3 separate regions of the Homo sapiens genome follow, and all the other regions are linked to region 2. Evidence: fine-mapped expression QTL. A gene starts in region 2. Each other region holds a variant in brackets. All regions are shown on one strand. Distances are between the middles of the regions.

Evidence for each region.
Region 1: its variant is fine-mapped to the expression of PRPH2 in thyroid (GTEx, PIP above 0.99).
Region 3: its variant is fine-mapped to the expression of PRPH2 in prostate (GTEx, PIP above 0.99).

What each region holds. Positions count from the first base shown.
Region 1 is chr6:42,672,834-42,677,833 of GRCh38, forward strand. UBR2 (ubiquitin protein ligase E3 component n-recognin 2) reads left to right here. Exons shown (of 47, transcript NM_001363705.2): 37 at 958-1,054; 38 at 1,293-1,360; 39 at 3,223-3,358; 40 at 3,950-4,040. Among named protein-coding and RNA genes, the nearest start is that of PRPH2, 47 kb to the right of the region's middle. The variant G/A (reference allele first, on the strand shown) is at 2,443.
Region 2 is chr6:42,719,759-42,725,103 of GRCh38, forward strand. PRPH2 (peripherin 2) reads right to left here and starts at 2,839. Exons shown (of 3, transcript NM_000322.5): 1 at 1,996-2,839. The coding sequence starts at 2,576.
Region 3 is chr6:43,325,538-43,330,882 of GRCh38, forward strand. It overlaps the pseudogene RPL34P14. Among named protein-coding and RNA genes, the nearest start is that of CRIP3, 19 kb to the left of the region's middle. RefSeq lists a silencer at 2,974-3,268. The variant G/A (reference allele first, on the strand shown) is at 3,231.

The DNA of each region.
Region 1 (5,000 bases), 47 kb before region 2:
CTTTGAGAGCAGGAGGGGGAGAATGGGTTTTATTTGAAGATCTTCAGAACCAAGACCTAGTGTATATAGTAGGACCTCAATATTTATTGAACCAAACATTACAGAAAATTTGGAAAATGAAAAAACAAGCAGGAAGAAAAAAGTCATCAACTTATCACATACCCATCTTTTTCCATTAGCATATTTATGCTTGATTACAATTGGTACTCACATGTAGCTTTGTTTCTGCTGTATTCTTTAAATCAAGAGTTTTCTTATTACTGCTACTTAGTCCTCATAACAATTTTTAATAGCTGCAGGCACCCTCATTTGTACCACCATCTTCTTAGACAGTTTCCCCAATATTTGGAGTATCTCTTTAGGATACTCTACATTTTACGGAAGAGTATCCACATTTTAGAGGATCTCTTTAGGATAAACATAAGAGATATGTGTTTTAGGGTATCTGTTTAGGATAAACATAGAGAAATACTGCATCCGCATCTTGGCTTGTTTATTTGTTTTTTGAGATAGAGTCTCGCTCTGTTTTCCAGGCTGGAGTGCAGTGGTGTGATCTCAGCTCACTGCAACCTCTGCCTCCAGGGTTCAAGTGATTCTCCTTCCTCAGCCTCTCGAGTAGCTGGGATTACAGGTGTGAGCCACCACACCCGGCCTGCACTGGCATCTTGGGAGTGTCCCTTGCTTTCTGTCAGATGCGTATATTCTATATTCTTTTCTTTTCCAGAGAAAACCAGCAACATGGTGGCAAAGAGATAGATTTCATTTATTCAGCACACACTTAGACATTTCCCATTCCATTTATCCTGTGTTAGAGGCATGTCATTGAGATGTCATAGATCTAGTTCCATACCATCTAGAGCAGTTTCATTGTGCATCCAGCTGTGCTCTGAACTAGCATTCCTGAAAGAGAACTGCTTTGCATTTTTGTTTTTTGTTAATTGCGTTGGTTTATTTTAGGATGACTGTCTTAGGTCATTGACGAGATTTGCCGCAGCACACTGGACAGTGGCATCAGTTTCAGTGGTGCAAGGACATTTTTGTAAACTTTTTGCATGTGAGTATTAATACATTTATAACATGTTGTAATTTTTCATCCTCTGAAATTTTGTTTTTAATGGTACAGCTTCTCTCAGTAATGAATTAAATATTTAGTAGTACTGGTTTTCTTATATATAAGCTCTAGCTTATAAATTCTCATGTGTCTTGCAAGAAGATAAATTTAAAGCAGATTATATGCATTTTAACATGTTGGCATATGAAATATGCTAATGTATTTCTCTTTAAATCTGTAGCACTGGTGCCTAATGACAGCCATGAGGAACTTCCATGCATATTAGATATTGACATGTTTCATTTATTGGTGGGTATTGTGCAGTTTGTTTGGACTTCTACGTCATACTATGTAACTTTACCTTAGGTTTGGTGAGCAGTGTAGTGGCAGACAGGAAGGAGTTATGTGATTTCCTTACCCCTTCTGAGTATAATTCTTTTATGAGAAACCTCAAAAAGAAAATATTTAGGAACCTAGTTGAGAGACTTGACCTGGTTATCGAGACGTCCTCTGACTCTTATTTTGCTTTATGGCTGAGGTTAGTATTTTAACCTCTCTGTGCTTTTAACCTGTAAAGAGATAAAAACACCAGCAACGGGTCAGGTGTGGTGACTCATGCCTGTAATCCCAGCACTTTGCGAGGCTCACCCCAGATCACTTGAGGTCAGGAGTTTGAGAGCAGCCTTGCCAACATGGTGAAACCCTATCTCTACTAAAAATACAAAAAATTAGCTGGGCGTGGTGGCACATGCCTGTAATCTCAGCTACTCAGGAAAGTGAGACAGGAGAATCACTTGAACCCAGGAGGCGGAGGTTGCAGTGACCAAGATTGCATGACTGCACTCCAGCCTGGATGACAGAGCAAGACCCCATCCAAAAAAAAAAAAACAGCAACAGAAGCACTGCTGCTGGCCCATACAGTGCTTTTGTACATTTTCGAAAATCTGGCAGATACAGCCCTGTGGTCACACTACTTAGCAGCAGAGAGCCCCTTATAATTCAGGGAAAGGTATGTCCTCTGAGCCAGGACATCCTAGTGCTAAGACACACAGCTGTCCAAATAGTGGGTAGCCAAATTTCAGCCCTACCTCAACTGGGTTCCCTTGCACAGGGTACAGAGTGTACTGCCACACCCAGCAGCCCCGAGTGCTGTGCCTTTATTCTCTGGACCTCAGATTCTGCCCCTTTAAGTTGGTTAGTACCTACTTTATATGACTATGTCAGAACTCAGTGAGTTAATCCATGTAACACACTTAGAGCAATATATTCCTAATAAATGCGGCTATTACTGTTCTCATTGCTGCAACTAAAACCACCACCACTTATACTGCCATGCAGACAGCAGGAGGCCAACAGAGCTAGCATTTGTGTACCTGCCAGCTTTTACATAC[G/A]TTCACACTTACATCTCTACAATTTACATGTAACATATTGTCTTTAGTTTACCAATAGGGAAACTGAGGCCTGATCAGAGATATTAATTTGTGTAAAACAGCTCATAAGAGGAGGAGGTAGGATTCATATCTAGATATTTATGGGTCCAAAACCCATGTTTTTTCAACTGCCTACAGTCCTGGAGAGAGTTCAGATACTGTTTTTGTTAACAATAAGCTATGTATAGAGGACCCACTGGATTAATGAAATCATAGTGCCCATCAAGAGTCCTGTAACTCAAGTCATTTCATGTAGCCAGTCCTATTGGATTTTCCAACATGGATGCCCTTTCTTTAAGAACAAAGATTTCTTAAAGGGAGGAGCTGAACTCAGGAGGGATCACAGTAAGAAAATGGAAATGTGACCAGGCGCGGTGGCTCACGCCTGTAATCCCAGCACTTTGGGAGGCCGAGGTGGGCGGATTACCTGAGGTCAGGAGTTCGAGACCAGCCTGGCCAACGTGGCAAAACCTCATCTCTACTAAAAATACAAAAAGTCGGGCATGATGTTGCACGCCTGTAATCCCAGCTACTCAGGAGGCTGAGGCAGGAGAATCGCTTGAACCCAGGAGGTGGATGTTGCAGTGAACCGAGGTTGCGCCATTGCACTCCAGCCTGGGCAACAGAGTAAGACTCTGTCTCAAAAAAAAAATCAAAATAAAAGTAAAAGTAAGAAGATGGAAATTTGCTTAGCTGTGAAAGGAAAGGCGATCTGTCTGATGTCCTGTGTTTGGTGCCTAGGTGGGCTTGGTGCTTGCATTTCCTGCGTTGCAGTGTCAGGATTTTTCAGGGATCAGCCTTGGCACTGGAGACCTTCACATTTTCCATCTGGTTACTATGGCACACATCATACAGATCTTACTTACCTCATGTACAGGTAACTCTTGCCTTTTTGTCAGTTTCTTGAAGGAAATACTTGAGTTTTCTGAGTTTTAAAAAAAGTATTAGAGGAAAAGGTATTTGGATGAGAATAACACATGAATAAGGCTGTTTTTTTCTGTGTATCTTCATATGAAAAGTTTTGAAACATTTCTTTCTCCTCTTAAAATTTCCTAGTAATGTGAATGTTTCTAGTTTTAATTTCATACATTCAGTAATATTTGTGTAGAATAGTAATTAAATCTTTTAGAATCTTATGTTTTAGAATGCCAATTTTGTTTTAACTTACATGTTTGTTAATGCCCACATGAATTCATCATTAAATTACGTTTTGCATTCAAAATTCTTGTTTTTCATACACTTTAAGACTATATTTATTTGATTTTACTTAAAACATGCCAGCTGGCTGTTTGGTTTGATTGAGATCAATACTGTGCTCCCACTTGAGGGATTACAATTTTGCATGTTTTCTAGGAATACTTCATGTTATATGTGAGTTTATGAATATATTTGCATGCTTAATGTCTTCAGTCCTTTTGATAACACTTAATTGGAAAATACAGAGTACTAGTATTTCCTTATCTTTCAGAAGAGAATGGCATGGATCAAGAAAATCCCCCTTGTGAAGAAGAATCAGCAGTTCTTGCTTTGTATAAAACACTTCACCAGTATACGGGAAGGTGAGTTAGTTATCTTTACATAACGCATTTCCCTAAATATTGCTAGATGATGATAGCATGAGAAAGGAATTCGTTTGTTAATTAGGGGAATTTGTTGTCTGTTGACATGTTTTTAAAATAAGACGTGGAGTGATCTGCAGAGCCTTTCTGAACTATTCATATACTAACATAATTGGAAATCTGGGAGAAAGGTGATAATATGCAGAGCTTCCCACATTTATTTGGCTGTGGAACCCTTCATTTGCTCAGGGATCTGGCAGAGACTAGAGGATAGATCAAATGTACTTTGGAAAGTTGATACTCTAAAACTTATGTTGTCTCATTCAGAATGGGAATTTAAAACTGCAAGTTAAATTGGCATAATTTATTTTTAAGGTAATATTCAGTAGTAGCAGGAATAAAATGAAATTATTAGAATTCCATGTATGGTTAGAGTCATGATTTGCTACAAATAGCAATTCAGTAGTTTGCTTAGCTTTCAACAGTATATATGTCAAGAATCTGTAGTCAGGAACCTATAAAAATGTCTGTTTTTTGACTATCCCATTTCTGAGAACCTACATTAACAAAATAATTCAACATATAGAAAAAAAACATATAGGCATATAAAGATGGACACTCCAGCCAGGCACGGTGTCTCACCCCTATAATCCCAGCACTTTGGGAGAATGAGGCTGGCAGATTGCTTGAGCCCAGGCATTTGAGACCAGCCTGGCCAACATGGTGAAACCCTGTCTCTACCAAAAAATACAAAAATTAGCCAGGCATGGTAGCATGTGCCTGTGGTTCTATCTTCTCAGGAGGTTGAGGTAGTCAGATCACCCAGGCAGGTGAAGGCTGCAGTGAGCCATCACACCACTGCACTCCAGACTGGACAAAAGAGTGAGACCCTGTCTCAAAAAGAAAAAGATGTACACTCTGATATTATTTATATTAGCAAATAATTGAAAGCAATCTAAG
Region 2 (5,345 bases):
GGGTTTCTCCGTGTTGGTCAGGCTGGTCTCGAACTCCTGAACTCAGGTGATCCGCCCGCCTCGGCCTCCCAAAGTGCTGGGATTACAGGTGTGAGCTACCGCACCCGGCCCTAAATTGTCTTTATACTATCATTACACTGTATGATTATGTAAATGTTAACAAGACTAGACTGAAACTGAAATGTAGAAAAACTAAAGGCATTAATCAAGTTATGGGTGAGAAGCTAGCTTGAATTTGTTTTCCTATTTTGGCTTCTTTTAATATTACTGCTGTATTTTTTGTGCGTGTAATAGAAGAATTTTTCCAAGTCAGTGGAGTTAGGAAAATTTCCCACCAACAAGTTGGTATGGGACATTGAAGGAGTTTTGATTCAGCTAAATATTTGCCTGAAATTTTGGATCCATTGACCATTGAGAGTGGAGTGACCTAGATAATTCCTTCACTCTGATACAAAAGGGGATTTGGAGTTACCGAGAGATTTGAATACATCTGTCCAAGAACTGACTCTATGCAGGAGACAATCAAGGGAAATGATAGAGGAAAAGATGAAAAGCCCCTTCTCTGTGAGCCTCTGCTCACAGAGGCTGGTTCTACCATCGGCCTCTCCCACTCCCCAGAATTCTGCTTGTCCCCCTGGCTTCATGCCCTCCTCGGGAGATTTATGTAAATCGTGGCATCTTGTGCTGCCCCTGCAGACCTGTCACCTGGGAAGGGCACAGCCCTTTACAATCCTCTCCTGACTGGGGATTTGCAGCAGTAATCTCCATCCACAAGAAAATAAAATCCCAAGAAGTGACCTTCACTTGGACGTCCCTTCCATCTGCAGGGCAGATATAAGCTAGCTATTTGGGCGTCATTAATGTTGTTTTGGGCTTCAAACATGTCCTGCTGCTGGTGCCAATGCCCTGAGTTCAAGTTCCCTTTGGACTTGCCAGCCTCACTGGGAAGAAAAAAAAACCACCCTTAGGAATAACTGAACCCCTAACCTCAGCCAGGTAGGGTCGAGTCAGACAGAAAGAAGAGGTGAGGGAAAGCGGCTGCCTCAAGGCAGGCTGCCCTTTCCCTGAAAAGTCACTCGAGCCCCAGGTTGGTGGGTGTGTTGGGAAGAGCAGCCCGCTGGAGCCAGTGCACAGGCTGTTCCCTCCGACACAGTGGTCGAGAGTCTCTCTCTCACCAGCACCTCCCACAGCCCATCGCAGCATTTTACTTTTACATATGCCAAGAATACTTTAGAAATGCTTTATCACATTGCACTATCATGACTCGCTAAGTAAACACCAGCAAGCATTTAATGAGTACCTGCTGCATGCCAGCTACCAGGCAGGGCTAGGAGGTGACTTCCAAAATTACCTATTCTATTCCAGTGCTCATTTAAAAGATGGGCAAGCCAAAGCGCAGAGTGACTAGTGACCTGCCCAAGGTCACAAGACCTTGAACAACAGAACCAAAACTTCACCCTAGATCTCATGACTTCCCCTTCCTATGCTCTTTCCAACATATCCAGACAAACATCTTGGGAATGGATGCTCAGGGTTGAAAGGTTGGAAAACAAGGGAACTAACTAGGAAATTTAAACTTCTGGGACTGAATCCATCTACTTTGAATGAATGGGACAAATAGCCAAATAGTACCTCAGTGTTTGTGATCTATGAATGACTTCCATCCCTCTGTATAAAGTGGACACACATTGCTGCCTGGCTCTTCATCCCAAGGGGCTCCTATCCAAACAGCTTATATAAATTGATACCTTCCTACCACCTTAGCCAATGTTAGGTTGAACCCTATGAAGTTGTCATTTTTTATGGGTCAAAGAGGTAGAATATTAGCAATTTCATATGGTTCCACCTGATACACCCTCACATACGCAGCAATAAGTTGTGCACCCGATGGAGAGGAAAAGGCACTGGGTGCGGGGAGAGGGGCTGGTCAGAGGCCTGAGCCTCAGTGTCCCCAATATATTCATAGCTCTGACCCCAGGACTGGAAGCCACTCACTCTTTGACTTCTTTGGAGGAAAAGTCCAGGTAGCGATTGCTGATCCACTGAATCTCAAACCAGTCCCGAAAACCGTTGTTGCCGCAGCATTTGAACTCGATCTGCAGCATGTCGATGGTCTTCTTCATGAAACACCTGCCAGGGGTGTCTGTGTCCCGGTAGTACTTCATGCCGTTCTTGAGCCCTTGGCCCAGGGTGTTCTCCAGCGAGCCCCGAAGCAGAAAGCAGCAGAGAGCCACAAGGAAGAGGATGATGTTGAAGAGAACACAGATAGCCAGGTACGGCTTCAGCCAGGGCTTCCATCTGGCATACTTGGCTGGGTCCAGGGCGTCGTAGCAGATCTTCCCAGCCAGCGAGTTGAAGACACAGGATAGCACCCCCATCCCTATCAATGAGTTGGGCACAAAATGGCTCTCAGAATTATTCATCACATCGCTCCTCTTTCGGAGTTCAATCTTCAGGAACAGTCCTAGGCTGAAGATGATGATGCCAGCCAACACGGAGAACCAGTTCATGAGCCAGAGCCCTTGGGCCAACTTGACCCGCTTCTTCTGGTCAAACTTGACTTTCAGTAGCGCCATGCTTGCCAAGTGTAGTCCGGGTTGCTTCCCACAGCACAGCTCCCACCCCAAACCTTAACGAGCCCAGAGGCGGAGACTTAGGGCCTTGGGAAAAGTGCAGATGGCCCAAGCTGTAGGGAGCTGCCCTGGGGGCTACCCATGTCGAGTCCCACTAGCCTGGGATCCCCGTGAATGCAGTAGTGGTGGCAGGGGTCTCGGAATCACAGCTTGAGCAGGGGATAGTCCTGGTCCTGGGCGTTGTTTCTTCAGCGCCCTTCCCAGCCAAGAAGGGGCAGCCTGAACGCTGCAGATTAAAAGTGGGATCCACAAGACATTTTGCTAATCTCTTTAGCCAGGTTCATCCCATTAGATAAAGCCATGCCACTCTCAAAACATGGTCAAAAGCAGCCTCCAGGTACATGCTGAACCAGAAAGCTCTGGGTACAGCTTGGAGAATCAGGAGCAAAGGGCAAGACTGGCCAGAAGAATGGGCTGTATCTGGATGTCTGGCTCAGACCGTGTTGCTCCCCAAAAGCATATTTCCAGGCCAATCTCCTTCAACATTTAAAACTTTCTGTAGGACAAATAAATTGTTATCCTCTCTGAGAAAAGAAATGACAGGGCCAGGCACAGTGGATCACGCCTATAATCCCAGCACTTTGGGAGACCAAGTTGGGTGGATCACTTGAGCCCAGGAGTTCAAGACCAGCCTGGGCTACATAGGAAGACCCCATCTCCACACACACACACACACACACAAAAAAAAAAAAAAAAAAATTAGCTGGGTATGGTGGCATGCACCTGTAGTTCTCCCAGCTACTCTGGAGGCTGAGGTGGCAAGATCACCTGAGCCTGGGGAGTTCAAGGCTGCACTGAGCCATGATCGTGCCACTGCACTCCAGCCTGGGTGACAGAGTGAGGCCCTGTCTCAAATTTTAAAAAGACAAAGAAAAGAAGAGAAGAAGGAAGGAAAGAAAGAAAGTGACAGATCGTGAGAAAACATTTGCAACTTGTAAAATTAAAAAGTAATATACAGTGGCCAGGCATGGTGGCTTATGCCTGTAATCCCAGTACTTTGGGAGGCCAAGGCAGGTGGATCGCTTGAGCCCAGGAGGTGGAGGTTGCACTGAACTGAGATCCCCACATTGCACTCCAGCCTGGGTGACAGTGAGACTCTGTCTGGAAAAAAAAAAAAAAGAATTAATATGCAAAAATGTTTTAAGTCTCACAAATTCACAATAAACAAAAATTCACAATCAAAAGACCAATAATCAACTGGAAAAATAGGCAAAAACCAGGAACAGACAATTCATAATTAGGAAACTTGAAAAGTCCAATAATCTGGAAAAGATCTCAACTTGGGTAATAAGCAGGAAAATGCAAATCCAAACAACAATAAAATACCAAACTTGGCCGGGCACAGTGGTTCACACCTGTAATCCCAGCAGTTTGGAAGGCCAAGGTGGGTGGATCACTTGAGGTCAGGCATTCAAGACCAGCCTGGCCAACATGGTGAAACCCTGTCTCTACTAAAAATACAAAAATTGTCTGGGTATGGTGACAGGCACCTGTAATCCCAGTTACTTGTGAGGCTGAGGAAGGAGCATCAATTGAACCCGGGAAGTGGAGGTTGCAGTGAGCCAAGATTGCGCCATTGCACTCCAGCCTGGGTGACAAGAGTGAAATGACGTCTCAAAAAAAGAAAAAGACCAAACTCGATCCATCAAATTGAATGTATGTCAAAATTCTGTCACCATACATCAACAAAGAGAGTGGAAGTAGAAGTGTACACTCTTGGTGAATCTGTACATTTATTATTATTATTAATTAATGGATTATTTCTTACAGTAGTTTTAGGTTTACAAAAAAATTGAACAGAAAATACAGGGAGTTCCCATTATTCTCCATCTCCCCAACCAGTTTCTCCTCTAATTAATATCTTGCATTAATGTGGTACATTTGTTACAATTAATGAACCAATATTGATGCACTATTATTAACTAAAGTCTATAGTTTACATTAAGGTTCAGTCTTTGTGCATATAATTCTGTCACTTTTGCCAAATGCATAATGTCATGTATTCATCATTATTGTATCATACAGAATACTTCCACTACTCTAATAACCTGCCATGTTCTGCCTATTCATTCCTCCTTCCCTCACTCCTCAGCCCTGGGCAACCACCGTCTAGATCTATAGTTTTGCCTTATCTAGAATATCTTACAGTTGGAATCATACAACATGTAGCCTTTTCAGACTGGCTTCTTTCCCTTAGCAATATATGTGATTAATGATTCTCTGTATCTTTTCACGGCTTAATAGCTCATTTCTTCTTATCACTGAATAACGTTTCATCACATGGATGTACCACGGTTTATTCCTTCACCTATCAGAGAATATCCTGGTTGATTCCAGTTTTTGACAATTATGAATAAAACTGCTATAAACATCCACGTGCAGGTTTTTGCTGAAAAATTTTCCATTCATCTGGGTAAATATCTAGGAGCACAATGGCTAGATTACATAGTAAGACTATGTTTAACTTTGTAAGAAACTGCCAATCTGTCTTGCAAAGTGACTGTACAATTTTGCATTCCTACCAGCAATTTTTACTTCATGTCCTTGCCAACATTTGATATTGTCAGTGTTTCAGATTTTAACCACTGTAATAGGTGTGTAGCTGCATCTTGTTTGAATTTGCAGTGCCCTAATGACATTTGATCTTTTCATGTGTCATGTGCTTATTTGCCATCTGCATATCTTCTTTGGTGAAGTGTCTGTTCAGCACTT
Region 3 (5,345 bases), 610 kb after region 2:
CCAGCAATTTTACTTCTAGTAAATACCTGAAAGAATAAAAAAACAGGTACTCAAATACTTATGCAGGAAATGTTCATAGCAGCATTATTCGAAATAGCCAAAGGTGGAAACAACTCAAATGTCCATCAGCAAATGAATGGATAAACAGATTGTGATATATACATATAATGGAGTATTATTCAGCTATGAAAAGGAATAAAACACTGATACATACTACAACATGGATGAATCTCAAAAACATTATGCTAAGTGAAAAAATAGTAACACAAAAATACAGATGAAAGGTCACACATTGTATGATTTTATTTATATGAAATGTCCAGAATAGATAAATCAATATAGAAAGAAAACAGATTGGTGATTGCCAGGGGCTGCAGGTAGGTGGGAATGGGGACTAACTGCTTAAGGGAAATAGTGTTTTATTTTGGGTGATGAAAATTTCACATATTTTATAATGTAAATTTCACCTCGATTTTTTTTTAAAAAGTACCAGAGATTGTTATAACAGTCAGATTACTGGTTACATTTTGGGGAAGTGGTAACTGGAAGATAACATGAGAGGAGCTTCCAGGGTGTTGGTCATATTTTATTTTTTGATTTGGGTGTTGGTTACCTAGGTCTGTTCACTTTGTGAAATTGTTAAGCTTAACACTTGTAATGTGTTTTGTTTTTTGTTTTTGAGATAGGGTTTTACTATCATCCAGGCCAGAGTGCAGTGGTGCAATCATGGCTCACTGTAGCCTCTACCTCGTGGCCTCAAGCGATCCTCCCACCTCAGCCTCCTGAGCAGCTGGGACTAAAAGCACCCGCTCCCATGCCCAGCTAATTTTTCTATTTTTTGTAGAGACAGGGTCTTGTTATTTCACCCAGGCTGGTCTTGAACTCCTGGACACAAGTGATCCTCCCGCATGTTGATCCTATCCAACATGGATAGGAGATTCATCCATGTTGGCCTCCTAAAGTGCTAGGATTACAGGCATGAGCCACTGTGCCCAGCCTGTTTTTAAAATATGAACATTGTACTTTAATATAAAAGTTTACTTAGAAAAAAGTTAAGGCCGGGTGCGGTGGCTCACGCCTGTAATCCCAGCACTTTGGGAGGCTGAGGTGGGCAGATCACAAGGTCAGGAAATCAAGACCATCCTGGCTAACACGGTGAAACCCCATCTCTACTAAAAATACAAAAAATTAGCCATGAGTGCTGGCGGGCGCCTGTGGTCCCAGCTACTCAGGAGGCTGAGGCAGGAGAATGGCCTGAACCTGGGAGGTGGAGCTTGCAGTGAGCCGAGATTGCGCCACTGCACTCCAGCCTGGGCAACAGAGGGACAGAGCGAGACTCCGTCTCAAAGAAAAAAAAAAGAAAAAAGTTAAATGGGGCCGGGCATGGTAGCTCACCCTGTAATCCCAGCACTTTGGGAGGCCGAGGCGCATGGATCACCTGATGTCAGGAGTTCGACACCAGCCTGGCCAACATGGTGAAACCCCATCACTACTAAAAATACGAAAATTAGCTGGGCATGGTGGCGGGCGCCTGAAATCTCAGCTACTCGGGAGGCTGAGGCAGGAGAATTGCTGGAACCCAGGAAGCAGAAGTTGCAGTGAGCTGAGATCGTGCCATTGCACTCCAGCCTGGGCAACAACAGCTAGACTCCATCTCAAAAAAAAAAAAAAAAGAAAAAAGTTAAACGGTTACCATATGACTATATATTCCTAGTTGTGCACCCTAGGGAACTAAAAACGTATATTTACACAAAAACTTGTACATGAATGTTCACAGATTATTCATAATAGGCAAAATATGAAAATAGCCCAAATGTCCAACAATTAGTAGACAAAACATGGTATATCCATACAGTGGAATAACTAGCCATAAAATACAATGATACATGGTATAACATGGATGAACTTTGACAACATTATGCTAAGTGAAAGAAGCCAGACACAAAAGAAATTTATTGTATGATTCCATTTATATTAAATGCTCAAAATAGGCAAATCCATAGAGACAGAAAGGAGACTGGTGATTGCCAGTGGCTTGGGAGTAGGGGTGACTGGGAGTATCTGCTAATGGGTATATGTTTTTTTTTAGAGGATGATGGAAATGTTCTGGAATTAGATAGTGGTGATAGTTGTACAACACTGAAGATACGAAAAATCACAGGACTATACACTTAAAAATGGTGAATTTGGCCAGGCACAGTGGCTCACGCCTCTAATCATATCACTTTGGGAGGCTAAGGTGGAAGGATCACTTGAGCCCAGGAAGTGGAGGTTGCTGTGTGCCATGATTGCAGGACTGTACTACTCCAGCCTGGACGACAGAGTGAAACCCTGTCTCAAAAAAATAAAGGTGAATTTTATGTTTTGTGAAATTCAACATATTAACTGTAATTCAATAAAAAAGATCTTACATATTTCATCATTCATAATACATGTGAATTCATATAAAATAAAAGAAGTCCAAAGGGGTCTAGAGGTATGGCAGACGTTCTCTTTCCCCTGTCTATATTTCCTTTACAATCGGCCACCATCGAAAAGTTGAGGAAGCCTAGAGCTCTCAGGAGCAGTCCTTTGAGCTTGTGTAGGGGCACTCAGAATGGTCCAGCATTTGACATACCATCATAGGCTTTCCTACAATATAGCCTCTAACAAAACCAGGCTGTCCCAAACCCCTGGTAATATAATTGTTTACCTTTATACCAAGAAGGTTGGGAAAGCACCAAATTCTGCATGTGGTGTGTGCCCAGGCAGACTTCAAGGGGTTTGTACTGTGAGACCTAAAGTTCTTATGAGATTGTGGAAAACAAAAAAAACATGTCAGCAGGGCCTATGGTGGTTCCATGTGTGTTAAATGTGTTCATGACAAGATCAAGCGTGCTTTCCTTATTGAAGAGCAGAAAATTGTTGTAAAAGTATTGAAGAGTCAGAAAGCTAAATAAAAATGAAGCTTTTTGAATAATAATAACAGAAAAAAGAAGTCCGAAAGGAAAAACAGTATTCTAAAAAATGTTCCCTTTCCCTCACCTATCCCCCAGATCAGTACAGCTCAGACACCATTGGAGAACTGAGGTCTAAGCAGCAAAGCAGGTGATGGAGGTAGGGCTGTGAGTCATAGTTTGTATGAAAGCTTGTGACCAACATCTTTGACTGTCCCTGAACAGAGGAATGTGACAGTTGATAAGAAACAGATCTTGGGCTGGAACAAAGGAGAGAAAGTGGTGGTGACCAAC[G/A]TGTTGGCAGCCCTGGCACCAGGTTGCTTTCCATTGCTTCATCCACCAGGTCATGCCTCAGGAATAAGTAATCCTTAACTAATATATCAGCAGCATGAGGCCCTGAGGTACTTTTTGCCCTTGATTGACTTCTTATTCCACTGATGGCTTTGCTTAATATCATGAATATTCCCGAAAGTTACTAAAACCATAGATGTATTTGGGCAGTAAACTAGACCTCCAGGACTCTAAAAATGCCTGGACTTACAAATCAAAAACAAAACCAGCCTGGCGTGGTGCTCACGCCTGTAATCCAAGCACTTTGGGAGGCCGAGGGGGGCGGATCGCTTGAGGTCAGGAGTTCATGACCAGCTTGGCCAGCGTGGTGAAACCCTGTCTCTACTAAAAATACAAAAATTAGCCAGGCATGGTGGCACACGCCTGTAATCCCAGCTACTTGGGAGGCTGAGGCAGGAGAATCGTTTGAACCCAGGAGGCAGAGGTTGCAGTGAGCTGAGATCGCGCCACTGCACTCCAGCCTGGGCAACAGAGTGAAACTCTGTCTCAAAAAAAAACCCAAAAGCAAAACAAAACAAAAAAACAAAACCAGCCTAATAGTTTTCAGGATAAATCTGGAATTGACACAGCTTAGATTTAAATAAATCTCAGAGTTTACAGGATTTAAAGGTCAGCTAAATTTTACTAGGTTCTGGTTCTCATTCCCACTGTGTTTCTGAGCCCATAGCCCCAAAGTACAAAGAGGAATAAAAGTACCTATTAGCATTTTTTGGCCAGGCGCAGTGGCTCACGCCTGTAACCTCAGCACCTAGTGAGGCTAAGGCGGGTGGATCACTTGAAGTCAGGAGTTTGAGACCAGCCTGGCTAACATGGTGAAACCCCATCTCTACTAAAAATAAAAAAATTAGCCAGGCATGGTGGCACACGCCTGTAATTCCAGCTACTCGGGAGGCTGAGGCACGAGAATTGTTTGTACCCGGAAGGTGGAGGTTATAGTGAGCTGAGATCGCGCCATTCCACTCCAGCCTGGCCGAAAGAGTAAGACTCTGTCCCCCCTCCAAAAAAAAAGGTACCCACTAGCATTTTTTCCTTTTTTCTTTTTCTTTCTTTCTTTTTTTTTTTTTTTTGAGACAGAGTTTCGCTCTTGTCACCCAGGCTGGAGTGGAATGGCGCAATCTTGGCTCACTGTGACCTCTGCCTCCCAGGTTCAAGCGATTCTCCTGCCTCAGCCTCCCAGCCTCCCAAGTAGCTGGGATTATAGATGACTGCCAACACCCCTGGCTAATTTTTTGTATTTTTAGTAGAGATGGGGTTTCACCATGTTGGCCAGGCTGGTCTCGAACTCCTGACCTCAAGTGATCTGCCAGCCTTGGCCCCGCAAAGTACTGAGATTACAGGCATGAGCCACCACACCCAGCCCTTTTTTTTTTTTTGAGTTGGTGTCTCTGTCCTCCAGGCTGAGGCGCAGTAGCCCAATCAAGGCTCACTGCAACCTCTGCCTCCCGGGTTCAAGCAATTCACCTGCCTCAGCCTCCCAAGTAGCTGGGATTACAGGCATATGCCACCATGCCCAGCTAATTTTTGTATTTTTAGTAGAGACAGGGTTTCACCATGTTGGCCAGGCTGGTCTCGAACTCCTGACCTCAGGTGATCCACCCACCTTAGCCTCCCAAAGTGCTGGGATTACAGGCATGAGCCACCGCGCCTGGCCCATTTTTAGTTTTTTTTAAATTTATTTTTGAGACAGGGTCTTGTTCTGTTGCTCAGGCTGGAGTGCAATAGTGCAATCAGAGTTCAGTGCAGTTTCAACCTCCAGGGTTCAAAGCGATCCTCCCACCTCAGCCTCCCGAGTAGCTGGGACTACAGGCATGGACCACCATGCCGGACTAATTTATTTTTTGTAGAGACAGGGTCTCACTATGTTGCCTGGCTGGTCTTGAACTCCTGGGCTCAACTGATCTGCTGACCTCGGCCTCTCAAAGTGCTGGGATTATAGGTGTGAGCTACCATGCCCAGCCCTTACTTGGATTTTATTTTATTTTTTTCAAGACGGAGTCTTGCTCTGTTGCCCAGGCTAGAGTGCAGTGGCATGGTCTTGGCTCACTGCAACCTCTGCCT